4 linked regions of the Homo sapiens genome follow. The protein of the gene in region 1 interacts with the protein of each later gene in a pairwise test. Each region holds a gene or a part of one and is shown in the gene's direction. Other genes may lie near its edges.

Region 1 (5,594 bases):
TGGACCTGGCCAGCCCCGAGGCAGCCCCCGCTGCCCCCACTGCCCTGCCCAGCTTCAGCACCTTCATGGACGGCTACACAGGAGAGTTTGACACCTTCCTCTACCAGCTGCCAGGAACAGTCCAGCCATGCTCCTCAGCCTCCTCCTCGGCCTCCTCCACATCCTCGTCCTCAGCCACCTCCCCTGCCTCTGCCTCCTTCAAGTTCGAGGACTTCCAGGTGTACGGCTGCTACCCCGGCCCCCTGAGCGGCCCAGTGGATGAGGCCCTGTCCTCCAGTGGCTCTGACTACTATGGCAGCCCCTGCTCGGCCCCGTCGCCCTCCACGCCCAGCTTCCAGCCGCCCCAGCTCTCTCCCTGGGATGGCTCCTTCGGCCACTTCTCGCCCAGCCAGACTTACGAAGGCCTGCGGGCATGGACAGAGCAGCTGCCCAAAGCCTCTGGGCCCCCACAGCCTCCAGCCTTCTTTTCCTTCAGTCCTCCCACCGGCCCCAGCCCCAGCCTGGCCCAGAGCCCCCTGAAGTTGTTCCCCTCACAGGCCACCCACCAGCTGGGGGAGGGAGAGAGCTATTCCATGCCTACGGCCTTCCCAGGTTTGGCACCCACTTCTCCACACCTTGAGGGCTCGGGGATACTGGATACACCCGTGACCTCAACCAAGGCCCGGAGCGGGGCCCCAGGTGGAAGTGAAGGCCGCTGTGCTGTGTGTGGGGACAACGCTTCATGCCAGCATTATGGTGTCCGCACATGTGAGGGCTGCAAGGGCTTCTTCAAGGTACCGCGCAGCCCCAGGTGGGGCCTTTTGTTGGAAATGGAGAGAGGCTGGCCTCATCCCATTGGGACCTGTGGTCTCCCCCTGGGTTCTCCTCCTAGCTAAGTCCTGTCCTGCAGGGTGGGATCAGCCCTGCCAGGTGGGCCGCCTTCCTGGAGACCCGTAGATGCCAGGGCTGGAAGCTTTCATTTGCCGGGACACTCGGGCCCATGGGATTGCACAGAGCTGGAGGGAGGGGTGAGATAGGGGCAGATAGGAGCTGCAGGGGTGCCTGGCGAGCCTCTGGTTTTCCTCTGCTCCTCTGCCTGTCCTCTCCCAACTCAAGGTTCTAGTGGGAAGGGGTGCCCCCAGGCTCTCATGTTCCTGGCGTGAGATGAAAGGATCCCTGCGGAGGGTTTGGTTCTTGAGGGCTGGGGGTGGACTTGGGAACAGGCTGTGTGTTTGTCCCAGCGATGGTGCCTGCTTAGCTTCCCGTCCCCACCCCCCAGCCCCTTGGCCCTCTCCTGTCTGCCCTAGGGAGAAGGCAGGTGGACAAGGGCCCATGAAAAAATACAGGTGTCTAGACTGCCAGGGAGACCCTGGCCCCCAGTAGTGTGTCCTGGGGACTTCCTCAGAGCGAGAAACCTCCCCCAATGTCTTCAAGACTTTTCTCTCCCCCCGCCCAACCCCGTCTCTCCCTCCCTTGCCACCCAAATGTTAGAAAAATAGCTGTGAACAGAGAGCGCTTTTGTCTGCAATGGCAGCAGGATCTGGACGGTCCCCTCCCCTAAGTTCCCCCCTCCCCACCCCACACTCTGACAGCTTGTTCCGTGTTGCCCCCCCACCCAGCGCACAGTGCAGAAAAACGCCAAGTACATCTGCCTGGCTAACAAGGACTGCCCTGTGGACAAGAGGCGGCGAAACCGCTGCCAGTTCTGCCGCTTCCAGAAGTGCCTGGCGGTGGGCATGGTGAAGGAAGGTGTGTGGCTGGGGTGCGGCCCAGCGGGGCAAGGGTAGGCTTGAGTGGAGTGGGACCAGCAGGGCCCCCAGGCTTCTGCCCTGGAGGACCCAGAGGAGGGCACGTCTTATTTCCACCCCACCTCTGAACCCCAGGCCTTGGAGGGAGGCAGCCTACACCTGCCTGGATTGTGAGGGTGGTGGCAGGGGGAGGTTCCTATAGGGTACCTTGGATCTCAGGGACTCTGGGTCCTAGGGACTCGGTGGGGCGCGTCTCAGCAGTGGTGTGCACGGCTTGGGCTGAGAGGCCCTTCCTCAGATCCCTTCCTTCCTCACCCCTACCCATTCCTTTGCAGTTGTCCGAACAGACAGCCTGAAGGGGCGGCGGGGCCGGCTACCTTCAAAACCCAAGCAGCCCCCAGATGCCTCCCCTGCCAATCTCCTCACTTCCCTGGTCCGTGCACACCTGGACTCAGGGCCCAGCACTGCCAAACTGGACTACTCCAAGGTGAGGTCCCACCCCGTGTCTGCCTTGGGGAGGTCTATGAGCACATGCAGTGCCTTTGTGCGTGTTAGGAGAGCTACCCCCTCTGGAAGGACTGAATGAGAAAGGAGGTTTAAAAAAGAAAGAAAGAAAAGCGACTCCCTCCAGTTCGACAGATCAAAGAGAGGATCCCCCTCTCGGCTGACCAGATGGGAAAATGCACCCCCTCAGGCAGGTGGCCAATTAGAAAAATATGTCCTTTTGGCAGCTGCAGCCCTGGGTTAATATGTGAGACTTGGCAAGTGAGAGCCTGGGCAGGATCTCAGATCCACTCCCACTCCCGGGATCTGGCATCCAAGTGTCTGACACAGCCATACGTGGCAGTGGGTGTAGGAGCCTGCCTGGGGTGCTGACCCCACTGGACCGTCTTCCTAGTTCCAGGAGCTGGTGCTGCCCCACTTTGGGAAGGAAGATGCTGGGGATGTACAGCAGTTCTACGACCTGCTCTCCGGTTCTCTGGAGGTCATCCGCAAGTGGGCGGAGAAGATCCCTGGCTTTGCTGAGCTGTCACCGGCTGACCAGGACCTGTTGCTGGAGTCGGCCTTCCTGGAGCTCTTCATCCTCCGCCTGGCGTACAGGTGAGAGCCACTGACTGTCTGCCCAGCCCCTTTCCCTGATACACCTGCCTGTGAACCACCCTGATCGCTCTTCGTGCCCATCTGCCTGCCAGGTCTAAGCCAGGCGAGGGCAAGCTCATCTTCTGCTCAGGCCTGGTGCTACACCGGCTGCAGTGTGCCCGTGGCTTCGGGGACTGGATTGACAGTATCCTGGCCTTCTCAAGGTCCCTGCACAGCTTGCTTGTCGATGTCCCTGCCTTCGCCTGCCTCTCTGCCCTTGTCCTCATCACCGGTGAGTGACCAGCACCACACCAGGTCCAAGGGAATGGGCGTCAGGGGGTTGACTGGTTCTCAGGAGGGCACTGTCCCAGGGAGTTTGGTGGGCCGGGATCTAGCACTTTCTGGGCCCCTGCACTGCCCCGGGCTCATGCCAGCAGTAAAGTAGGGACCATAGGAATTGCAGATGGGCTCAGCTGCATCCAGCTCTAAAGCGCAAGACAGCCTTTGGTCCCAGACTGTCAGGATCCAGACTGCAGGTGTCATGTATGTGGCCTAGGGTATTGGCTTGTTTTTAAAACCTTCCTGTCAATTATGCTGCATATAGAAAAGTACACAAATGGTAAATTTTCATAAACCGCACTTACCCAACCAGCGCCTTGGTCAAGAAAGAGCACATAACTGCCCCCCAGAACCCATTATTGTGCCCCCTTCCAGTCATTTGCCCTCCCCAAGGGTAACCACTACTTTTTATTTAAATATTTTAAAAATAAGATGGGAATCTCACTATGTTGCCCGAGCTGGTCTCGAACTCCTGGGCTCAAATGATCCTCCTGTCTCAGCCTCCTAAAGTGCTGGGATTACAGGTGTGAGCCACCACGCCTAGCCCTTCACTGTGACTTCTGACAGTGCAGATCAGATTGGTTGTGCCTGTTTTGGACTTTATGTAAATGTAGTTCTGCAGGATGGAATCTGGTGTTGAATGCAGAGGTTTTCAGATTTCTCTGTTTTTTAAAGGAAAGAATCCACCCTCGTTCATTTTTTCACTTAAATTGCACAGGGGACCCAACGATATAGAACACAATCAGAGGTACTCTGGGCTGAGGGAGTGCTGAGTTCTGAGGCTGGGTTTCTCAGAACAGTCTAGATTTTAAAAACCCAATGATCTAGCCAGAAAACGTAGGTTAGGATTTTATTTCCCGTTTGTGACCCTGGGCAAGTCATTAGCCTCCTGGGCCTCGGGTTCTCACTTGGAGTATGAGGATAATGAGGGTTACTGCTTCTCAGACTTGTGACGATGCTTACTAATGGCCAACATGTGAATGCGCTTTTGTGAAGTGCCAGCAGAGCATGAGGGGTGGTCAGGGGCAGCAGTTTTAGGGGCCTGGGGGAGGCTGGGGCTTTGGGGGCCTGGTTCTCAGATGTACAGCTAATCCTGTACCCTTCCCGCAGACCGGCATGGGCTGCAGGAGCCGCGGCGGGTGGAGGAGCTGCAGAACCGCATCGCCAGCTGCCTGAAGGAGCACGTGGCAGCTGTGGCGGGCGAGCCCCAGCCAGCCAGCTGCCTGTCACGTCTGTTGGGCAAACTGCCCGAGCTGCGGACCCTGTGCACCCAGGGCCTGCAGCGCATCTTCTACCTCAAGCTGGAGGACTTGGTGCCCCCTCCACCCATCATTGACAAGATCTTCATGGACACGCTGCCCTTCTGACCCCTGCCTGGGAACACGTGTGCACATGCGCACTCTCATATGCCACCCCATGTGCCTTTAGTCCACGGACCCCCAGAGCACCCCCAAGCCTGGGCTTGAGCTGCAGAATGACTCCACCTTCTCACCTGCTCCAGGAGGTTTGCAGGGAGCTCAAGCCCTTGGGGAGGGGGATGCCTTCATGGGGGTGACCCCACGATTTGTCTTATCCCCCCCAGCCTGGCCCCGGCCTTTATGTTTTTTGTAAGATAAACCGTTTTTAACACATAGCGCCGTGCTGTAAATAAGCCCAGTGCTGCTGTAAATACAGGAAGAAAGAGCTTGAGGTGGGAGCGGGGCTGGGAGGAAGGGATGGGCCCCGCCTTCCTGGGCAGCCTTTCCAGCCTCCTGCTGGCTCTCTCTTCCTACCCTCCTTCCACATGTACATAAACTGTCACTCTAGGAAGAAGACAAATGACAGATTCTGACATTTATATTTGTGTATTTTCCTGGATTTATAGTATGTGACTTTTCTGATTAATATATTTAATATATTGAATAAAAAATAGACATGTAGTTGGAACTGAGATTCAGTCTGTCTCTGATGCCCCCTCCCCACTCCCCCACCAGACACACCCCATCATTACATAAGAGATGGGCTGCTCAAGATGAAACTTGGATGTTACCAGCCTGAGCTGTCAGGCCTCAGTGTACTCATTTGTAAAAGGCGGATAATAATGACACCTGCTTCACGAGGTTGTTATGCAAAGCACTTAGACTAATTTCTAACACGTGGGAAGCCTGCATTAGCTGTGCCTGGCTAGCTGTGCCTGGCTCATTGCTGGGGTCTGCAGTGGCTGACTAGCCCAGGGGTCACTGCAGGGCCCTAGCAATAGACTTAGCCGCAGATCTCAGGGTTGTCATGTTTCCTAAACTGGACATATATTCTCTGATTCTTGATTTCCACATCCATAAAACAAGAATAGACCCAGCCTCACAGAGCTTTTACGGTCAGAGGAGTGTGTGTGTAATGCTTAGCATGGGCTGGGTTTAAGTAAGCCCAAATTGGTAGTAGCTGTTACATTCAGGGTTTTAACATCCCCAT
Region 2 (7,851 bases), on another chromosome or scaffold:
GGTGAGTGACAACTCGGACTTTGACTCTGGGTAAGCCAAGGTCTCTGAGCAGCGGAGGGACAGGCGCTGATTTAGGCGCTAATGGGCGCCCTCTGGCGGCTGCCTGGGGACAGACTGCTGGGGGCGAGGGCAGAAGTAGGGGCACAGGGAGGAGGTGAGTGGATCTCACCCAAGTCGGGGGCGGTGGAGAATGCTGGATTTAACTTAGCGGTGAAGCTGACAGATTTGGCTAATGGGCCAGATGTGGGGACAGACTAAAGGATGCTGGCCCGAGCAGCTGCAGGGCGACATCTTAAGTTCCCCGAGATGGGGAAGGTGTGGGGATGGGGGCGATGGGGGTGGGGAGCAGGACTGGAGGTGGTCCGGTCTACAGTAAGATCAGAACTCATAGCACATGTTGAGGGGAATGGATATAAGTGTTGGGCTCAGCAAAGAAGCTCGTTTATTTTATTTTATTTTAATTTTTCAGATGGAGTCTCACTCTATTGCCCAGACTGGAGTGCAGTGGCACGACCTTGGCTCACTGCAACCTCCACCTCCTGGGTTCAAGCGATTCCCTGCCTCAGCCTCCTGAGTAGCTGGGGTTACAGGCGCACACCACCATGTCCGGCTAATTTTGTAGTTTTAGCAGAGACGGGGTTTTGCCCTGTTGGCCAGGCTGGTCTCGAACTCTTGGCCTCAAGTGATCCACCCACCTCGGCCTCCCAAAGTGCTGGAATTACAGGCTGAGCTACCACGCCTGGACAATTTCTTAAAAAATTTTTTTAAAGTAGGATTGATAGCAGATGAGTTTTCTCGGTGGGCCAGGTCCTCTGCTAGGGATTTCAATGGAATGATCCCATTTAAACCCACTACAACCTCATGGGGCTCTTATTGTCCTCGTCTTGTGGGGGCAGAGAGGAAAAGTCCCCAGCATGCAGAGTGTTGGAATCTGGATTTGTACACAAAGCCACGACTCTGAATTGTTCAAATCCCAAGACTCTCTTCCCCATCTCTGACTCTGTCCCCCAACTCTTCACTCTCTCTGGATCTCTGTCTAATCCCACTCCAGTGTCCTGACCCTCCTCGAGCTCAACCTTTCCTCCTCCTGCTAGGACCCTGCCCCCTCATCCCTGTGCCCTTCTGTCTGGGTCTCTGTCCCCTTGTCTGGGTGTCTGTCACCCTCCGCTCTCTGGTTCCTCGCCTTCCCGTCTCTAATCTCACAGGGCTGATGTGGACGCTGCTGTATGGGGGGAACACCTGCCCTGCTCACAGGGCTCTGCCACTTTTCCCTTCCAGGAGGGCATCCTGGCTGTTTCACCCGTGGACTTGAACTTGCCATTGGACTGAGCTCTTTCTCAGAAGCTGCTACAAGATGACACCTCATGTCCCTGCCCTCTTCGTGTGCTTTTCCAAGTCTTCCTATTCCACTCAGGGCTGTGGGGTGGTGGTTGCCCTACCTGTTTTTGCCAAAAATAAATTGTTTAAAACTTTTCTTATTAAAAACGTTACAAAGTATTCAATTGTCTGTTCTTACACTTGGGAACTAAAGTTTTAAGGAGAGGAGATTTGGTTCAGAGATTTCTGTGGCTTACGCAAATTGAGGAAAGAACCAGTTCATTCATTCTAGAAATATTTATTTGCAGCACCTACAAGAGCCTGTCTCCTGGACATGTAACATATTTGAGAGAATACCTGTAAATATTCCAGCAACTTGCATTTTTTTTTCCTATTGCACGATCTGGTTATTCTAGCTAATGCTGTATGATGGTCATGGAGTCTTTCCAGTGAATTCCACAGAAAGGTACAGTCTAACTTCACCTGTGTCTAGGACACCACCCTCTTCTTGTTTTTCTCCTCCCATTGCTCCTTTCAAGTCTCTCTTGCTGGTTTCTCATCTACCTACAGACCAGTGGTTTGTCTCACACACACCCCCCACTCTCCCTTTTTTTTTGGAGATAGGGTCTTGCTCTGTTGCCTATACTTGCACTGTTATATAGATACAGTGGCACTATCATGGCTCACTGCAGCCTCAACCTCCTGGGCTCAAGTGATCCTCCCACTTCAGCCTCTCTAGTAGCTGGAACTAAAGGCATGCGACACGACGCCTAGCTAATTTTTAAAAAAGAATTTTTATGGGAGGCCAAGGCAGGTGGATCACTTGAGGTCAGGAGTTCAAGACCAGCCAGGCCAACATGGTGAAACCCCATCTCTACTAAAAATACAAAAATTAGCCGGGCATGGTGGTGGGTGCCTGTAATCCCAGCTACTTGGGTGGCTGAGGCACGAGACTCGCTTGAACCCGGGAGGCAAGAGGTTGCAGTGAGTTGAGATCACGCCACTGCACTCCAGCCTGGGCAACAGAGCGAGACTCCGTCTCAAAAAAAAAAAAATTGTAGAAATGGGGTCTCCCTTATGTTGCCCAGGCTGGTCTCCACCTCCTGGGCTCAAGTGATCCTCCTACCTTGGCATCCCAAAGTCCTGGGATCACAGGCATGAGTCACTGTGCCTGGGCGGTTTGTCTCCTTTATAGGGCCATATCCCCCTTCACAGAGTAATGTTTGTAAATTAATAAGTGAAATGTACAGGATTACAAACCGAACCAATTACAGTTGATCCTCAGTATTTGTAGATTATTTGCAAATTTGCATCCTTGCTACAATGTATTCATACCCCAAAAATTAAGGCAGTGCTTTTGTGGTGTTTTGGAGGGCAATGCTTATGCACAGAGCTGCAACAAGCTAAAGACCTGATGTGCATATTTGCAGCTGGGCTCCTCTTGCTTCAGCTCAAACACTGGAAACAAATGTCCTTTTCTTGGTTTGTTTAGTGCCATGCTTTTCAATTTTTTTTTTTTTTTTTAAAGTTAGAGTCTCGGTCTGTCGCTCGAGCTGGAGTGCAATGGCTTCATCCTGGCTCACTGCAACCTCCACCTCCTGAGCTCAAGCGATTCTCCTGCCTCAGCCTCCCAAGTAGCTGGGATTACAGGCGTGTGCCACCAGTCCTGGCTAATTTTTTTATTTTTATTTTTATTTATTTTATTATTTTTTGAGATGGAGTCTCGCTGTGTCGCCTAGGCTGGAGTGCAGTGGCACCATCTCAGCTCACTGCAACCTCTGCCTCCCGGGTTCACGTGATTCTCCTGCCTCAGCCTCTGGAGCAGCTGGGACTACAGGCGCCCACCACCACACCCGGCTAATTTTTGTTTTTTTAGTAGAGACGGGGGTTTCACCATATTGGCTAGGCTGGTCTCGAACTCCTGAGCTTGTGATCCGCCCACCTCAGCCTTCCAAAATGCTGGGATTACAGGCGTGAGTCACCGCGCCCGGCCAAATTTTTTTTTTTTTTTTTTTTGAGACAAGAGTCTCGCTCTGTCACCCAGGCTGGAGTGCAGTGGCGCGATCTCAGCTCACTGCAAGCTCCGCCTCCCGGGTTCACGCCATCCTCCTGCCTAAGCCTCCACGCCCGGCTAATTTTTTGTATTTTTAGTAGAGACGGGGGTTTCACCATGTTAGCCAGGATGGTCTCGACCTCCTGACCTTGTGATCCGCCCGCCTCGGTCTCCCAAAATGCTGGGATTACAGGCGTGAGCCACCGCGCCCGGCCGCCTGGCGTAATTTTTGTATTTTTAATAGAAATGGGGGTTTCACCATGTTGCCCAGACTGGTCTCGAACTCCTGATGTCAAGTGATCCGCCTGCCTCCGCCTCCTAAAGTGCTGGAATTACACCCGTGAGCCATCGCGCCCGAACCCTATTGTAAATTTTAAGTCTCAGGCGTTTGCCAGCGGCACGCCAGAGAGTATAGCCTGCGCGGAGGCCCAGAAACCAAAGAGCGAGCTCATTCCGGGATTGGAGAGAAGTGTGAGCAGAGGGAAGTAGAGGGATCGGGGAGAGGAGGGGCAGGACCCACGCATTCGGCCCTTTGCATTCAGCTTCATTCAACTAGGAACTTTTTCTGCAAATCAAGGAAAGCTTCCCGGAGGAAGTGGTGCCTAAGCTGTGCTCTGATTCACGTTTAGAAGCTGACCAGACAAAGAGAGGTGGGCGTTCCTGGCAGGGGGAGGGACTTGGCAAAAACCAAGTGGCTTGAGAGGGGTTGATGGTTTTAAAAAACTTGGAATGATTATGTCAAGGGCTAGGGATTTAATGTGTTGACGACGGACTCCTATTCCTCACTTGCTTCGGGACCCCAGCTATGCCCTTCCTCTCTCTGGGCCTCTCACCGATTCCGTTTTTCCCCCAGGTAATGAGCACAAGCTCCCTTTTTCCTCCAGACTCCCCCCGGGTTGGGAGGATCCACCGAGTGGACGAGGAGTGATAATTCCTTTGAGCCAATCGTTGGTGCCTGAAGCCCCGCCTTCTTCCCTACCCGTGGGCCAATTGCCGTGTTCTCCTTGAGGCCGGCCGCTTGGCGAGGGTGGGCCAAAGGCTGCGTGACGTCGCTTCCGGATAAACCAATGGCAGCGATTAGGAGGCGGGTCGTTTTGGTGATGGACAGGTGTTTCAAGACGCCCCTTTAGCGCGGGGCTCCCCGGGAAGCTTTGAGGCGGTGCTGGGTGTAAAGGGGAGGGCATTCCTGGTGGATTTTGCCCAATCACCAGTCGCGCTTCTTGCAATAGACGGGCAGTTTTCCCCATCCCGGGTCGACTTGAGGGGGCGGGATTCTGGACGCCAGAGTTGGCAAACCCCTGACCTATGATGGACGTATTCTCTAGCCAATTACTAGACGGTATTCTCAGACGGGCCGCCTCCATTGCCAATGAAATCTTCCAGCGGGGTCGCGGTAGGCGGGCCGTGGACCCTCTGGTATAAGGCGGTCCCGGGGGAGTGAGGAGAAAGGGGGGGTCTTGGCGGCCGGAGGAGGAGTAGGTGCGGGTGAAGATGGCGGCAGCCGAGGCCGCGAACTGCATCATGGAGGTGAGCGCTTGGAGCGCCGCCGTGGGCGGGAGGCGGCTTTGGGTCGGTGTTTCACGCCTCTGTGGTGGGGAAAGGGCTCTAAGTTGGCGATATGGGGTTGGAGGTCCCCCGCCGCACACGGGGGCGCCGCACGTTCCACATCCGGGGATATCGTTTGAGGTGACGGCTCCCTAGCTTCCAAGGGCCTTCGGCATCCGGCCTAGCGGAGGGTCTTATCCCCCCTCCCACGTGGAGGAGGGCTGGGGGCGCTTCCGGCCAGGCCCCCACGTGGCCGCTGCGCGGTGGGTGGGGAGGGGGTGTGCCGAGTCCAGTGGCCCGGCGGGCTCCACGTGCGGGACAAAGGCCCCGCCCCCGGCCGGGGAGGGGCGCCCAGGGGGGCGGGGAGGGGGTCCGACCCTCCTGACGCCCCCAGCCCTCCTCCCCGGGGACCTGGGCACACGCCGTGGGGTGTGATCGACCTGGGGCCCTCCACGATGTGGGGAGTCTCTTGGGAGGAGCAGTGCTTCTCAGCCCTTTACCAACCTCCTTCCGAGCTCCGGGGGCATCTGTTGGGATATCGGACCCGGTTTTGTGCGTTCTGGGTTAGGGACTGGAGGAAAACCAAGAATGGGGTCCCCCGCCGACCCCGTTTCCCCTCCCAGAATTCTCCCCCTCGCCCAGGGCTTTAGGAGTTGGGGGATGGGGCATGCCCCTGTGACCTCCCTCTGGGTGGTGGTGGGGCATCTAGATAGAGATTTTCCCATTAATAGGCGCCGTGCACCCCCTTGTGGCCATTTCTGGGTGTGTGGGAGGGACATCTTTTTCATGGGGCGTGTCCTGAAGCCCACCTCCCCTCGGATTTCTTCCTGGCGGGCGGAGGGAGGAGGGTATGTCCGCTGGGAAGGAGTTGTGGGAAATATGTAGGCTGAGAGCTTTACCCTACTGGAGCCGTTTATCTCCCCCGGGTCTTTGTGAGGGTGCGAGATGACCTCCTTCTTCCTGAAGCCCTGTGCAGGGTCCTGAGCCCTGGGGTCCTGAGAGTGGGTGCCTGAAATGGTTTCGAGTGAGGTTTGGTTCTCGTGCAGCCATGTGGGGGAGGTTTCAGTCTTGCGTTTCAAGCCCTCTGGGGCTGGGGTTGTCTGGCGGTAGTTTTCAGTGGTATTGAGAAATAGGCCCGAGTGGGAAACCCCCTCAGCACCTTTCTTCTTATAGGCATCCCCGCTAGCTTGGGAGAGCTGGAGGGAGGGTGCTTGGAGCCTAGTAGGTCATGGCCTGTGACGTGGCCCTTCTTGGAGACTTGGATAGTGGTCACATCTGGAAGAGATGTAATCTGATGGGGCCTCTGTCCTTCCACCCCTTACCTATGGCATTGGCTGGAGGGGCAGGTCAGCTCTCAGCTGTCAGGATGCAGCTCCCAGGGGTCACTGTAATGACTTCCCACCCTCTTGGCTGTCTCCTGCACCTGGGGCTCTATGGATGGAGGAAATAACTTTCCCAGAGGTGGCCTCAGGCTTGGCCGCACCTGGAAGTCTTCAGGGCCTGGGATGGGTGTCTGAATGGGGGCGATGGCCTGACTCCCCAAGCCACTTTTTTTTTTTTTTTTTTTGAGACGGAGTCTTACTCTGTCACCCAGGCTGGAGTGCAATGGCTTGATCTCGGCTCATTGCAACCTCCGCCTCCCGGGTTCAAGCGATTCTCCTGCTTCAGCCTCCTGAGTAGCTGGGATTACAGGCACCCGCCACCAGGCCCAGCTAATTTTTGTATTTTTAGTAGAGATAGGGTTTCACCATGTTGGTCAGGCTGGTCTCAAACTCCTGACCTCAGGTGACCCACCTGCCTCGGCCTCCCAAAGTGCCGGGATTGCAGGTGTGAGCCACCGTGCCCCCAAGCCACTTTCTGGAGTCCTCTCATTCTTAGAGGGTCCAGGAGCTGCCCATCTTCCCTGGGACCCTACCTTCGTGGGCAGAGGGTCATAAGGGAGGGGGTTGGTTCCAGCTGGTTTTGTTTGGGGCTCCTGAGTCCAAGGCAGGAGCTGGGGTCTGGGGTACTAGCTCTGGGGAAGTACCCGTGTGCCACACCTCTATTCTGGAATCCTCTCAGACATGAGACTGGTTTGCAGAGGTGGCAGATGCCCTGTGGGCATATCCTGCCAGCCCCGCTCCCTTCTGCTATTCATGGCACCCTAGGATAGGGGTGTGTGTGTCAGGAAGTGTCACCTAATCTGGAGGAGATTAGGTGATGAGAGGGAGCGACAGCTGGCGGTGGTGGGTGCCAATTCCCCTGGCCTGGATGGGGGAGGTGTGTGGTCAGCTGCCTGGCCAGAGAGGGGCAGCGTGGGGGTGGGCCACCATCTCTCCAGCCACAGCTGGGATAGGAGACCCCCCTTTCTTCTCCCCTCACTTTTCCCACCCTTTCTTAAACACCCCACCTCATTACTTGCCCCCTTCGCCACCACTCCCCACCAAGAAGGAGAATTGCTGGAAACCCACCCCCCGGCCAGAGCCCAGGTTCCGCCACCCAGCCCTCCCACAGCCACTCCCAGTAGCTAATCCTTTTTCCCTGTTACTCTCTCCTAGAATTTTGTAGCCACCTTGGCTAATGGGATGAGCCTCCAGCCGCCTCTTGAAGAAGTAAATATCCTTTTGTGAGACCCCTCCCCACCCTGACCTCCACATCAATATATCTTGCCACACATCTGGCCCTTTCTTGAGGTCTAACCATACCCCTCTTGCTTCAAACCAGTTTACCCCAGGCCCCCAGACACTTAGTAGCAACCCCTCCAGGTTCACAGCCCCCGCTGGCCTCCCCCAGTATCGCCGCTACTTCCTTAACTCCACCTCCAACCCCCCTTTGCCCTTCCCTGTGTCTGCCCCCATTTTCCTTCCCCTCCCCTCCCCAGCTGTGGGCTGAGCTAGAGACGGGGTCAGAGAGACTGGAGAGATGGTAGGCGTGGCTGAGGTATCGGGGTGCTCCCC
Region 3 (6,839 bases), on another chromosome or scaffold:
TGCCAAGCACCCCCATGACCGAAACACCCCCGACTAGGCCTCATCTCCAACATTGGAGGTTACATTTTAGCACGAGATTTGGAGGGGGCAAATATTTAAACTATAGCATATATCATCTTTGGTGAAATGTCCATTTAAGTCTTTTGCCCATTTTATTTATATATATCATTTATTATTATTATTATTATTTCAGATGGTGTTTCACTCTTCTTGCCCAGGCTGGAGTGCAATGGCACAATCTCGGTTCACTTCAACCTCTGCCTCCCGGGTTCAAGCAATTCTCCTGCTTCAGCCTCCCAAGTAGCTGGGATTACAGGCACACACCACCACGCCTTGCTAATCTTTTGTAGTTTTAATAGAGACAGGGTTTCACCATGTCGGTCAGGCTGGTCTTGAACTCCTGACCTCAGGTGATCTGCCTGCCTCGGCTTCCCAAAGTAGTGGGATTACAGGCGTGAGCCACCACTCCCACTTTTGCTCATTTTAAAATTGGGTTATTCGATTTTTTGTTGTTGAGTTGTAGCATTTTTTGGTATACTCTGAATGTTTACTCTTCATTGCCAAGTTTGATGTCATGAATAATTTCCCCTATGTTTTCTTCTAGGAGTTTCATAGTTTTGTGGCTCGCATTTGGGCAATTAGTTCTCCATGCCCTTTTAAAGTTATTTCTGTGGATAGATGATAGAAGAGATATATAGGTATCTCCATAGAAAATATTTGTATATAGTTCTGTTATATGCATTTTTATTGCTATGGTTTTGTTTAACCTAATACATACTATTCTGATGCTGGCTTTTTTTTACATTTTATAAGTCTTTTTCATTATTTTTAATTGCTGCTTAGTATTCTACGGTAATGATCCACCACATTTTATTTTGTCTTTTCCCTTTTAAAGGTACTTGTGTCGCTGGTTGTTAAAGGAACATTTCCTACTTTGGAGGAATTTCTTTTTTTTAATTATACTTTTAAGTTCTAGGGTACATGTGCACAACGTGCAGGTTTGTTACATAGGTATACATGTGCTACGTTGGTTTGCTGCACCCATCAACTCGTCATTTACATTAGGTATTTCTCCTAATGCTCTCCCTCACCCAGCCCCCTTCCCCCAACAGGCCAAGTGTGTGATGTTCCCCTCCCTGTGTCCATGTGTTCTCATTGTTCAACTCCCACTTATGAGTAAGAACATGTGGTGTTTGATTTTCTGTACTTGTGATATTTTGCTGAGAATGATGGTTTCCAGCTTCATTCATGTCCCTCCAAAGGACATGAACTCATCTTTTTTTATGGCTGCATAGTATTCCATGGTATATATGTGCCACATTTTCTTTATCCAGTCTATTATTGATGGACATTTGGGTTGGTTCCAAGTCTTTGCTATTGTGAATAGTGCCGCAATAAACATACGTGTGCACGTGTCTTTATAGTAGCCATTCTAACAGGCGTGAGATGGTATCTCATTGTGGTCTTGATTTGCATTACTATTTACTATTGAAATTGTGTAGAACTGCTGGACAAAAACTGTGTCCATATGCTGGCCGTGTATTGTTCCATCCAGAAGTGATTTGAGCCTCAGCATTAGGGTGACCCCAACCCAGCCTTTGGTTAGGACATGGAGCCTGATGATGTCACATACATACATTCATACATTCATTGTGCTAATTTGCAAAGTCTCTGGTACTGATGTAGTAGCTGCACAGGGGCGTGTGGATTTCTGAATATACTGCCTCCCCGGGGGCCCTTCCCAGAGAGAAAGCCAGAGTGGACACCTGCTGGACCCCTGAATAGGAGTATAGATCGCCATCAGTGTGGCTTAAACTAGTTGAACCAACATATTGATGTCACACTTGTGTCAACATAAAAAAAAAAAAAGAGAGAGAGGGAGACAAATCTTTAAGTAAAATCGTTTTACTTGGGAATAATACAAAAGAAGTAGGATTGCAATCCCACAACATAAATATGGACCAGGGTGGCCTTTTTGTTTTGGAGAACAAAGGAAAAAGCTGGGGATTTTTAGAGAAAGAGGCTGTTATGCAAGTTGTTCTGAAGGAAAGTTCAATGCAATTTGTTTTATGAAAGTTATGCAAGTTGTTTTGAAAGAAAGTTTAATGGCTGTGATCCCACAGCCGAAAGCTCACACCTGTAATCCCAGCAATTTGGGAGGCTGAGGCAGGAGGATCACCTGACATCAGGAGTTTGAGACCAGCCGGGCCAACATGGTGAAACCCCATCTCTACTAAAAATACAAAAAATTAGCCGGGCATGGTGGCAGTTGCCTTTAATCCCAGCTACTTGGGAGGCTGAGGCAGGAGAATCACTTGAATCACTCCACCGGGAGGTGGAGGTTGCAGTGAGCCGAGATTGCGCCATTGCCCTCCAGCCTGGGCAACAAGAGCAAAACTCCATAAAAAAAAAAAAGAAAGGAAAGGGAGGGGAGGGGAGGGGAGGGCAGGGAAGGGCAGGGAAGGGCAGAGAAGGGCAGGGAAGGGCAAGGGCAAGGGCAAGGGCAAGGGAAAGGAAAGGAAAGGAAAGGAAAGGAAGAAAAAAAGTTTATTGGTGGTGGCAGCATCTTACAAGACCTGGCGAGTTCTGACCGCCAAGTGTCAGTAGTTGCTAGGTAGGACTGGGAATCTTGGAGTTATGGTCAGGTTCCTGCAGTTTTGGATTGGGTTTGTGAGACACTGTGCCAGGCAAGTGTTTTTGCATAACTGGCTCGCTCTCCCTGTGCTTCTAGCTGTCCTTGTGTGGCCCATGTGATAAGCTGCAGTTTGGAAACATTTCTTGTGATAGTTCCTGTTAGCAGGCAAACGGGAGAGCCTCATCTTGCGTGAGAGCCCTCCCATTAAAGCCTTGCTGGCTCTGTCTGCTGAGGTTTTACCCAAGTGACTCCATTTTGAATCTTACAACTCGCACACTACTCATGTGGAAGATTTAAATGTACATTCCAGGACCTGGTGCTTTCTCTTCCGCCTGTTCTCAAAGCAGCTGCAGGGTGAGCCTGACTGTGTCATTTCTCAGCTTCATCTCCCTTTCCCCAAAAAGGTATAGATGATAATCCCCTGCAATGGCTTCAGGACACAAGATCAAGTCCTTGCAGTGCTTTTGTGGCCTCACAGGGCCTGGATCCCTGTTAAACTCTGAGTTCACCTCCTGCCTCTCTCCCCTGCCCACCTGCTGAGGCCACACTGGCCCCCTTGCTGCTCCTGCCACACGGGCTCTGCCACTGCTGTGGCCTCCACCTGGAATGACTGCCCCCCCATAATTCTGCCTAGGTCACTGCTTCACCTCCTTTTGCTTTAGCGCTTCATCAAATAACATTCTATACATTTAGTTATTTATTATGTTTAGTTTGCCCCCATTGCTGGTAAACTCTGTGAGGATGGATATTTTGGTCTGTTTTGTTTACAGTCCTGTCCCAGTGCCTAGTCAGTATCTAGCACAGTGGGCCTTCAGTTGAGACTTTTTTTGAAAAACGGAACATCTGCCTATCGCAAGGACTACTATTATTCTGAAAATCACCTTCTTCATTAGAAAGTAATATTTATCATTTTATTATAGAACTTTGATCTTACTTCTTGTGACTTCATTCTGCGTAGAGCACACTCCCATCCTTGAATTAAATGACAAAGCATTTTATATTAACTGACAATGACTGATGCCATGGGCAAATCCTATTTCTGTAAATAACTGAATTTTCTTCTGGACTGCGCATGAGGGGAGAAAGATGTCTGCAGTTTCGGTTTCCTGGAAAATGAAACCTATCTCATTTGTTGCCTGTGTCAAGGGGCAGTGCTTCAGTCGGGGTGGAGCTGCTTAAAAGGCCTGGGATCACACCCTTTGGGAACACATCCAAGCTTAAGACGGTGAGGTCAGCTTCACATTCTCAGGAACTCTCCTTCTTTGGGTAAGACTGGGAGGGTGGGCAGGAGCTACCCTTCCCGTGGCCCCGGACCTTGGGTGGGCTGTGGGCTCAGGGAGCGGAGGGGAGGCCTTAAGCATCCACTCTCTGCCCGGTGTTTTTGTTCTCATCAGGGAGCCTCAGATGGGAAGGGACTCGAGCCCCACCTGTCCCTGGACTCTGGAATGTAAGGACAATTAGCTTTGTCCTTGCCCAGGTTTTCCTCAGGCCTTGAGGGCGGCTTGGGGTAAAGTGGGCAAGGGGAAGAGATAAGTGTTAGGAGGAACCAAGTCGAAGCCATTGCAAGTCCATGCCTGGGCGGGGTGTTGCTTCCCTATGGAAAGCTTCTGACCTGGAGCAAATCACTGAGCCAGATCGCGCTCCCTCATCTGTAACATGCGGAGGAGGAGGGTCCCATCTTTTTCACGTTAGTGAGGAGATTACATAAGAGCAGGCACCTCGCCTGCTGTATATGCCTTAAAAATGCGATTGGTTCTGATTTCTTAGTTTTGGTGCTTTTTCAATTGCTCCGTGGAGAGATAAGGGAGTCCCGGAAGTGTCTAAGACATTGGCGCTGGGACTTTCAGGAGAAAGAAAGCAGCCCCCCTGGGGAAATAAAGTCCCTCAGGGCCCTGACCTAACACAGGTCCTTTGGTAGCCCCAACTCCCCAACATCCCTCCCTCCCTCACCCCAGGATCCTTTCAAGGCCTGCTGCTCCACAAGCTCAGAGCAGCCTCCCTAGCCCCCTGGAGCCCGTCACATTTTTCAGGACAGTGGGAAGCAAGTCAGGTTGTGTGCCCATCCCGTCCTCAGAGCTCCATCCCTTCGGCAGGTCTGGCTGAAGTTGAGGATCTCTTACTCTCTAGGCCACGGAATTAACCCGAGCAGGCATGGAGGCCTCTGCTCTCACCTCATCAGCAGTGACCAGTGTGGCCAAAGTGGTCAGGGTGGCCTCTGGCTCTGCCGTAGTTTTGCCCCTGGGTGAGTGTTCCTGGGAGGGGCTGGTGCTGGGGGCGAGGAGGCGGCTGGGAAGGGCGGGGGTCCTGTCCCGGGACCCGTGGGAGAGAAAATGGGGGACACCCGCAGCCTTGCTGCCCTGTCCTGTCTTCTCACAGCAGGCGTCCACCCTAACTTTCCATCTGGGAGGGGGCCCGGGGCAGGCAGACTCTGGCCAGATGCCCAGCCCTGGGTGTTCCACAGGTCCTCTCCCCTCTGGGCCCGGGCCTCCTCCTGCCTAGCCGGAAAGGGTCTATCTACCACTGAGTCCCACTCTCTTCAGCTCTCCCTTCCCCCAGATTCACCATCAGAATTCATCTCCTTTAGGAGTTTACCTTGTCAATAGGGCCCCGTGTCCTATGGGATCTCACATCCAGAGTATCGATTTTAACAAAATTCTTCAGCTCACTTTTTTCATTAGTTTCTGGGAGATCTCTTTCTGGTTTTATTTATTCTCATTTTCTTCCTTTTCACCCTCGATTCCCCTCCCTCAAAGTCAACCTTTCTAATATATTTAATGTGTGTCTGTTTTTCATATGTATTTTTGCAGAATGGGTATTGTGTTTTGTTTGCGGGCATTTTAACTGACATGCAGGATGGTGTGCTGTAGATCCCATTCTATTGCTTTTTTCCACACTGAGAACCATATTCTTGAGATCCATCAGTGTCATTCGATGAGCATCTAATCCTGGCTTCTACCTGCTGACAAGTGCTCCTCTGTGTGTATCCCCTGCCCTTTACCTTTCTGTCTCCGTGGGTGGACATCCAGGGGTTCCCCCAACTCCGCCAGCACAAATGGCACAGGCTTGAATGGGGGCACAGGGCCCCTGACTCCGACCCTGACTTCTGACCCCTGCCCCAACCTCTAACCTCTGTTTGAGCCTGCACTCACCCTTTGCTGACCCTGTCATCCTCAGCTGCCCTGAGCCCCAACATCTCTCTCCTCAGACCCTTGCTGGGGGCACTGGAGGCTAGCTCCTTCATGCTGGGGTCCCTCACTGGCACCCTGTTTTGCAACTTGGAGGTAACTGGCCCTCGGCAACACACACCACTCTGGGCTCCCAACTCAGTACAGAGAAGTGTGATGAGCAAGCAAGGGCCTGGGCCACGCCCAGCAGTCCTTTCTGTTTGTCAGAAATGCAGATGACTTCTCAGTTTAAGATCAAGCAATTCATAAAATTAAAATAATAACAGCTCAACTTAAGCAAGCGCTTTTATGTTCTAGTCACTTACCCTAGCACTTGAGGTTTGTCAATTTAATTCTCATAACAACCCCAGAGGAAGATAAGAAGATAATATCGTCCCTTATTTACCAACTGGGACAATTTACTGTTGTCCAAGTGCTCTGGGCAGGACAGAAGGGTGTGGGTGTGCTGCTTCCAGGCTTGGAACAGGAGGTAGAACAATGAACAATGACAGAAAGTATTAATAGGCCAGGCACGGTGGCTCACACCTGCAATCCCGGCACTTTGGGAGGCCAAGAAGGGCGGATCACTCGAGGTCAGGAGTTTGAGACCAGCCTGGCCACCACGGTAAAACCCTGTCTCTACCAAAAATACAAATATTAGCTAGGCATGGTGGTGCATGCCTGTAATCCCAGCTACTTGGGAAGCTGAGTCAGAAGAATCACTTGAATCCAGGAGGCAGAGGTTGCAGTGAGCCGAGATTGTGCCACTGCACTCCAGGCTGGGTGACAGAGCTAAGATTCTGTCTCAAAAAAAAAGAAAGAAATATTAATAGAAGTAGGAAAAGGTTGGAGGGAGGTCTCAGGGTAGGGCAGGTTCTGAATGGCACGAAATAATGGCCAGGCTACTCCGCCGTATGAATGCCCATCAGCTGAGCCTAACAGGCAGGCCTCCAGACACACCGCAGCCAGTTCCTGAGGGCTTTTGTGTGTCAGGGTGCAGGTCTGCTGGGCTGCCAGCCAACTTGACATCACCTCTCTTG
Region 4 (7,580 bases), on another chromosome or scaffold:
TGCCCCACCAGATTTTTATCACTAACAAGAATGAAAAATAGTACATGATATCTTTGTGGGTGGACTCATTTAAGAATGATTTTCTAGTGTCTTCTTGGTGCCTAGGTGCTAGAGACATGACAGTGAACAAGATGTACAGAAATCCCAAATCTCAAGGAGCTTACATTCTGGAGGGTGGAGACAAGTAATATGTATGTAATACGTCAGATGATAAGTACTAAAGGTGGGGGGGTGTGCGGTGGGGGGGCAGCAAGGAAGGAGGATGGAAAGTACCAGGGGGATTCATATGTATTAAATTCTTAGAATTTGTTAAATAATATATGGGGTTTATTCCTATGTCTACTTTTTAAACAGCTTGATACAGGAAAATGTATTCATTTAATCAATTTGACTACCAGCAAAATAGGCCATGGGTCACACACTTAGTATTTCTAGATTCTTCAGAGTATTAGAAATGAAGAATGAAGCATAGCACCCTTTGTAAGGGTAGTGGCCCTTGCGCACTTTGTGCACCCTGTAGGGATAACAAAGAATGAGCAGTAAATGGTACTTGGTTAGATGGTAGTCCTTGCAGGCAATTGGCTTTAGACTTACACTTCGTATCAGCTCTATTTAACCTACTCAGGTTGTCCTCATTAGGGCTTTTCATTTGGAACGCTATTATAGCAATCATATATGGTATTTTTAGCATCTTATATAAACTTTCGCACAAATGCCCAAGTTATATAATCAGCTCTCCCTCGGCCCCCCCACCCCCGGCTTTCTTTCAGCTTCCCACAGTTTTACAGTAGGGGCAAGGAGGTGTGAGTGCAATAGGGGATCCCTGTACAGTGACTGCAGGTGTTCAGGTCTCAGAAACTGGTTCCCCCTCTCTAAACAGGGATGAGTATGTACCAACAAAATGTGTTCTTGATACCCTTCTCTTCTATTCTCAGCCCTCATCTGCTGTTACATTTTCAGCAGGTATCACATTGCTGTGTTCCTCAGTCTGGGAGATGCTCTGCCTCCTCTTACTGTGTTCAAACCAAGCCCTGGGGCTTGGCTCCAGAGGCAGAAGGCACCTTAGAGGTAGTTGCAGTTCCCTCTTTCTACAGATAGCAAATGAGGCCTAGGGAACCCAGGTGACTTCTTCCCTGGCATAGAGGCATAAATAGAGTCAGCACCAGGTGTCTGGATTCCCTCGCTGGTATGACTTCTATGAAACTAGCAGCTTCTCAGATCCCAATTTTCTTATATATATATATATATATATATATATATATATATATAGAGAGAGAGAGAGAGAGAGAGAGAGAGAGAGAGAGAGGGGTATGAAAAGGTGGTCTCTAGAGACCCCTCCATCTGTGTATTCTGTACAAAAATGCTATTGGGGACCAGGCGTGGTGGTTTATGCCTCTAATCCCAGCCCATTAGGAGGTTGAGGCAGGGGAATTGCTTGAGGCCCGGAGTTTGAGACCAGCCTGGGCAACATAATGGGGCCCGCCTCTACAACAAGTTAAAAAAAAAAAAAATTGCTGAGCAGAGAGGCATGCGTCTGTAGTCCCAGCTACTCGGAGAGGCTGAGGTGGGAGATTGCTTGAGCCCAGGAGGTCAAGGCTGCAGTGAGCTATATACTCACTATGCACTGCAGCCTGGGTGACAAAGTTAGATTGTGTCAAAAAAAAAAAATCTATTGGCTAGGTACTGTTTATATAAAACGTTATAGTTTACTCTCTTTGAATAGAACATTATCAACTGAAATGAATCAGGAATGGGACATATTTTGCTTGGACTGACAAATTCAGTTTCTTTTTTAATAAGAATGTAAAGAAACAAATGGTAAATTCACCCACAGCAAAAAAAAAAAAAAAAAAAAAAAAAAAAGAGGTTCAAATACACATCTTCAGCTGAGTTGTATATAAGAAAAGCACTGTGTTATGTTACTCTTAAATAGGAGTTTACCAAACTATATCAGGAAAAGTCTTATGGTGTGGCAGTGGGAGGCAGGGATAAGCAGGCAATGATGGTGATAAGCATTTTCCAAATTAGGAAACAGATACGCTTTTCTTCTGACTCTCTTACATAACTGATCTATTTTAGAAGACAACACTCAAAAACCGAAACAGAATACAAATCTCATGATTTTACTACTTTGTTAGCAAAGAATGACACGAGCAAGTAATGCGGAAGGAAAAGGAGAGCTCTTCACTCCATTATACTTCTCCTAGCCAGGGGCAGCTTAGCAGGATTCCCTCTTCTCCATCACAGCCTGCTGGGTGACTCAGAGACCTGTCTAAATTTTAGGAAATGAACGAAGAAGGACACTAATTTTTCTCGCCTTTGAATTTAAACAAGCAGTCACATTATTGTGCAACTTTTGGATGGCAGAGAATGATGGAAGGGTGACCTGTGACAGTGCCAGTGACTGCTTTGCCTAGACTTCCTGATTCAAAGGGAAGTTATGCAGCACACAAAGGCCACAGCGGCAGTACAGCCTCTTACATAAATAAGTTACATAAATGAGAACAAGTTATGTAAATGCATAAACCAGCAAACATGAATTATAACCATTCACAAATGCCAAGGAGAACACGGTAAGATTCCTCCTACGGTCCCATTTTTTTCTCCCGCACATTATCATAATTGTGCCATTTTATTTCACATCAGAATCAGATGTGGTTGTCATATTTATTAGGAAAAGGAACTCCAAAGGACAAATAATACTTCACATTATTTTCTGAACCACATATTGTACTTTTGGCAGAAATCCCATAATAGAACCTGACTTTATATTTGAAAAGAAGTTTATGAGTGTTTATTAATTTACTATGCTCCTTGTAATAAACATGAACACATTGATTACATATTTACTGTTGTAAATTTTGCAACATGCCATTAAGAACAAGGATGCGTTACAAAAATGAATGTGCGTGTACACATGGATATTTGTTTGTGATTTCAAGTCTCAAGGGAGTATGTGGACATCAGCTGAAAGTCACTGTTCTGCTTGTTAAGGTAGTAATTTAGGGGTTAGGATTGGATTTAAGGTTATGCTCATGACTTAATCCCAATGCTTCCCATGCCAAATGCTTAGGAGGTGCTCCTTGGATCTAGCTGCAATTTGCTTCAGGTGCAATGTGAGTGATAAATGAACTTGTTTCTGTCTGCATCCTGTTGGAACAGGAGGCTTGGCTTTTTCTCAGGCACCTCTTTTTTATTCATTCCCTTTAGGGTAATATAACTCTGTCTTTTCTGACGTTACACGACTTGTTGATTGTGTAGTGAAAACACATGAACTCAAAACATTTTTTAGCCTTAATTGCCTGTTCCTTATAAAGAGAAATATTAAACGTTTACCAATTTCATACATAGCATGCTCAGGTGAACTTTCCAATTAGCAACTTCTTTTACTTTGAAAATCTCATATATTTCTATGAAATATTACATATTTTATTAAATATTACATATTAGTCTAACGTAGTAGTAGTGGAATAGACGTGATCTTAAAATCTGTATTAGCTGTGTGATTTTTGACAAATAACTTTCCCTGTGTTTCCAATCATTTGAAAAAGGACTAAAAGTCCTAAGTGACTTCCAACATTAGCGATCTAATACCCTATCATCAAATCTGTATTTTCAGCTGAGAGCTTTAAACTTGCTGCTGTGAAGTTTAAGGGAAATAGCACCCATTATATATCAACCCGATCATTTTCTTCTGTCAGCAAAACTGCAGAGCCAGCTTGGGTTGTAGTAATACGGTGACCGCCATGTGAAACATGTTTCTTGGTGTTTTCTTTTAAAACTGCCAAATATAGACCTTAACCAGCTGTAAGGCAGTGCTTGAGGTGTGGAGACACCTGAGGAAGCTGTGGGCTTTCTCCCTCGAGGTGGGCCCACGATGAGTTTTAAGCAAGACGGGCAAGCAGTCACCTGGCACCAGGAAAAACTCCTTGCCCTCTGGAGGGAGTCGCCCCAGGAACGTGGGTTTTTTGTTCATATTTAAAGTTGAGTCCTCTAGAACCGAAGAGTCCCAGTCATCTGCCGAAGGTGCGCTCCCAGGCCCCCTGCTTGGGCGCGCCCACCTGGAACATGGGCGTAGAGCTATGAAAATGCAGACCCGCACAAGCGCGAGGCCACGCGGGGAGACCCCCGCCCGCCAGGAGTTGGGGCAGGTCCGGCCTGGGCGGGGGCGTCGGGGGAGGGGTGGTGACCCGGAGTCCCGCGCGGCAGGGGAGCGTCCCCCAACCCCCGGCAGGGGCGAGGGCCACCGCAGGTGGCGGCGTTGGCAGACAGGCAAGCGGGGACTGAAGCTCCGGGGTCCTTCCGGCTTTGTTCCGTCACGAGCCGAGCCCTCCTTTCCGGAGAAGCCAATTAGATCTCCGACGGAGGAATCATCCGACCTGCGTCCCCCACCCGGAGGGGGCTCGGAAGGGGCGGGGCCCAGCGCTTGGCTCCTCGGGAGCGCGGCCGCGGGCGGCGTGGGGGAGTCCCGGGCGCCGTCGCCGAGCCCGGCCCCGCCCTCGCCAGGCCCCGCCCTCGGGGCTTCCCGGGCGCGCGCAGCCCCGCCGTGTCCGCGCGCCACGCCCCCCTGCTCGCGGGCCGCGTGCGGAGCCGCGCGCCCGGGAGGCTCCGGGACCGTGGCGGCGGGCGGCGGCGGCGCAGCCCTCCGCGGGCCATGTCCTCTCCGGCGGTGGCGAGGACCTCCCCAGGAGGGAGTCGGGAGATGGCCCCAGCGCCGCAGGGCCGAGGCCGGTTCTGGGAAGTGGGCGGCGGCAGCGGCCATCGGCTGGAGCGCGCGGCCGCGGAGTCGGAGCGCTGGGAGCTGCTGCTCCGCCGCGGGGAGCTGCTGGCGCTGGGCGGCCACCTGAAGGGCGCGCTGGAGGCGTTCGCGGCGGCGCTGCGCCGCGGGGCCCCGGCCAGGCCCGAGTGCCTGGGCGCCCTGGTGGACTGCCTGGTGTTCAACTACCGGCTCCGCCACGGGCTGGGCTGGAGCGCGGCCCCGGTTGCAGGCGCTGACGGCGGCGCCGGCGGGCTCCTCAGATGCCTGGGCTGCCGGGGCTTCCTGAGCGAGCCGGTGACCGTGCCCTGTGGCCACAGCTACTGCCGCCGCTGCCTGCGGAGGGAACTCCGCGCCCGCTGCCGCCTCTGCCGGGACCGGCTGCCGCCCGCCACCGCCAGTGCCACTGATGCTGAAGGGACCGCCCCGCGGCCGCCGCCTCTGGCCGCCGCCATCGCCGCTTCAGACTTCAGAACCAGCGTCGTCCTCAACCACCTGGCCGAGAAGTGGTTTCCGGGCCAGCGCGAGCGGGCCCGGGCGGCCGGCAGGCTCGGGGAGCTACTGCACCAGGGGCGCTACCGGGAGGCCCTGGCCGCCGCCTGCGAGGCGCTGCGAGCAGGTGACCGCGCGGGGATGCGGCGGGGCCGGGCCGACCGCACCCTCCTGGCCCCGAGGGCCGGGGACCCGGAGCTTGTCTGCGCCCCGAGAGTCTCCTCTGCTTCCCCGGGGCCGCTGGGCCGCTGGCGTGTCGGGTCTCGGGGTGCTGGGGGGTGTGGGAGGGGGCGGCGCCCCGGGGTGCTTCGGTCATAATGGGGATCGCCCTGGGAGCCGACTGTGACGCGGCGCGGGGAGGGGCGCTCGGCGCGGGGTTCCCTCGGCCGCGGCCTGGCTGTCGGGCGCGCGCTCCCGGCGCGGAGTGGGTGACCTGGACCGAGGCCGCCCCGGCGCGGGATGGGTGGTAGCTGGGCTATCCCGAGCGGCCGCTCGCTTCCTGCCGCGCGCTTTCCGGGAATTGGCTCTCGGGCCGGGCCCGCCGCGGGGAAACGACTGCCGGGGCGGGGAGAGAATCCCCCGCGAGGGCAACTAGGCCGGGCAGGCGGCGTCTCCCTTCCTCACCCACAAAAGTCACCGGGACAATTGGGAACCGCGGGAGGGCAGAATTGCATAAGCTGGGGGCGGGGGGCGTTGTGTAACGGGTGACGTCCGGTGGGCGTGGCGGGAGCTCCGCGCGGGCGCCCGGCCCCGGGAGGCCCTGCAGGCCGCCGGGCTTGGGGCTTGGGGCGGAGCTGCCCAGGGTGGTCCCTTGCTACCTGGAAATGCCTGAACTGGTTCCTCTTGAAAGTTTCAGCTGGCCTGTTTCAGATCCTGCTTATTTCCTATGTACTTTGCAGTGCACCTAGCTTATGGTAAAGATGAGAGGGGCTGCCTGATCCATAGTTCTCTGCCACGCTTCTCCTGGCCTTTCCACTTAGGATCAGGCTGTGGGGAAAGGCCTTATAGGTCTTGAGTGCATTTCTTAGTCTCCAAGAAGCAGCCTCGGCCTCCTAACCTAGGTTAGCACTTTCTTCTTAAGGTGGTTTTAGGCGCTGAAAGGGGGCAGTTTCAAGCTTCTCTTACGTAAAAGGAAGAGTTGTTCTATATAAATCAGTAGTTCTCTACCAGGGGGATTTTATCTCCCCTCTCTCAGGGGGCATTATTTAGAACAATATCTGGAGAGATTTTTGGTTGCCACCTCTTGTGGGGGTGGTGCTGGTACCGACATCTAGTGGGAGAGGCTGGGGTGCTGCTCAGACATCCTACTAGGCACAGCAGGATTCCCACAACAAAGAATTATCAGGCCCCAAGTGCCACTGTTGATAAACCTTGTGTTACGCGTATTTCAAGATCTTAGTGTCTATCCATTGGCATGAAATGATAGGGGAATAATCCCCAAGAAAACAGACATCTAGAATAGCAACTGACTTTAGGTATTACAGGTAAATTTATAGACTGTGTAACTGAAAGGATCATCTTTCGGGTCATCTTTTGTCCCAAGTGCTTAGTCATATTGAACTAATGTCAAGATCTTGTGTTGTTTAGTATCTTTAGAGTTCGAAGCACAAACCCCGGAGATTTTTGTATTCTTTCAGTGCCTTCGTGAGGAGTAGGCAGGTATAAAATAGAAAGGTAGGCTCAGAACAAAAAAAAAGTATTTGGAATACAGAATTCTGATACACATGACTCTGCTTCTCTGGGTGAATAAAGAGAAGAGAAACTGGACTCAGTTGTACAGACCACCTAGTAACTGACCATGGTGTGATTTTTAAAGCGAGGAAGCAGATGCCAGGCAGTGAAGACTTGCACACCGTCACACTGTTAACTGGTAGAGAGGCAGTGCTGTATCTTCCGCTTCTCCTAAACGTTGGTCTAGGGTTCATCCTGCCTTATAGCACATGTTTAGTATACATATCCAAGGAAGTTTTTTTGGTCACTGAGGCTGAACCTTATGGACAGTACTGCTGATTTAGTGATCTGACCTTGAATTAGGGGTTTCACAAGAATCCAGGTCCTGGTCCATGGAAGAACAGTGAGCACTTTTGATAATTGAGGTCTAGCTTAACATTCTGTGACCAATAATATTTTAGTTAACAGAGATTCTGGTTCTTGGATCGAGGATATTATGTTTAACAGGAAAAGGCTCTGAAAGATGTAATCTCTCTTTTTTTCAAGTTGCATAGATTGCACATGAGGATTTTGCCCACTTAGCAACTTCATTCTACTTTTGCAGGAATAGAACCCAAGTCTTCTGACTTTCACTGCATTAGCTTATTTTTTCCTCATTTTT

The links.
Region 2: the proteins of NR4A1 (region 1) and PRMT1 interact in binary tests that used the Homo sapiens proteins (3 or more experiments, as listed by UniProt).
Region 3: the proteins of NR4A1 (region 1) and IFI27 interact in binary tests that used the Homo sapiens proteins (3 or more experiments, as listed by UniProt).
Region 4: the proteins of NR4A1 (region 1) and LONRF1 interact in binary tests that used the Homo sapiens proteins (3 or more experiments, as listed by UniProt).

The regions. Positions count from the first base shown.
Region 1 is NC_000012.12:52,054,432-52,060,025, forward strand, and holds the end of NR4A1 (nuclear receptor subfamily 4immunitygroup A member 1), read left to right. Parts: coding exon 1-773; intron 774-1,598; coding exon 1,599-1,728; intron 1,729-2,062; coding exon 2,063-2,214; intron 2,215-2,625; coding exon 2,626-2,828; intron 2,829-2,920; coding exon 2,921-3,099; intron 3,100-4,256; coding exon 4,257-4,513; 3' UTR 4,514-5,072; downstream 5,073-5,594. UniProt on the Homo sapiens protein: Orphan nuclear receptor. Binds the NGFI-B response element (NBRE) 5'-AAAGGTCA-3'. Binds 9-cis-retinoic acid outside of its ligand-binding (NR LBD) domain.
Region 2 is NC_000019.10:49,672,420-49,680,270, forward strand, and holds the start of PRMT1 (protein arginine N-methyltransferase 1), read left to right. Parts: upstream 1-4,851; 5' UTR 4,852-4,861; coding exon 4,862-4,897; intron 4,898-7,450; exon of another isoform or gene 7,451-7,452; coding exon 7,453-7,506; exon of another isoform or gene 7,507-7,510; intron 7,511-7,720; exon of another isoform or gene 7,721-7,816; coding exon of another isoform or gene 7,817-7,834; intron 7,835-7,851. Other genes in the region: BCL2L12 (bcl-2-like protein 12), read left to right, coding at 1,279-1,329. UniProt on the Homo sapiens protein: Arginine methyltransferase that methylates (mono and asymmetric dimethylation) the guanidino nitrogens of arginyl residues present in proteins such as ESR1, histone H2, H3 and H4, FMR1, ILF3, HNRNPA1, HNRNPD, NFATC2IP, SUPT5H, TAF15, EWS, HABP4, SERBP1, RBM15, FOXO1, CHTOP, MAP3K5/ASK1, MICU1 and NPRL2.
Region 3 is NC_000014.9:94,106,897-94,113,735, forward strand, and holds the start of IFI27 (interferon alpha-inducible protein 27, mitochondrial), read left to right. Parts: upstream 1-3,901; intron 3,902-3,918; exon of another isoform or gene 3,919-4,082; intron 4,083-4,728; 5' UTR 4,729-4,786; coding exon 4,787-4,877; intron 4,878-6,839. UniProt on the Homo sapiens protein: Probable adapter protein involved in different biological processes. Part of the signaling pathways that lead to apoptosis.
Region 4 is NC_000008.11:12,752,495-12,760,074, reverse strand, and holds the start of LONRF1 (LON peptidase N-terminal domain and RING finger protein 1), read left to right. Parts: upstream 1-4,548; 5' UTR 4,549-4,654; coding exon 4,655-5,375; intron 5,376-5,626; exon of another isoform or gene 5,627-6,134; coding exon of another isoform or gene 6,135-6,162; intron 6,163-7,580.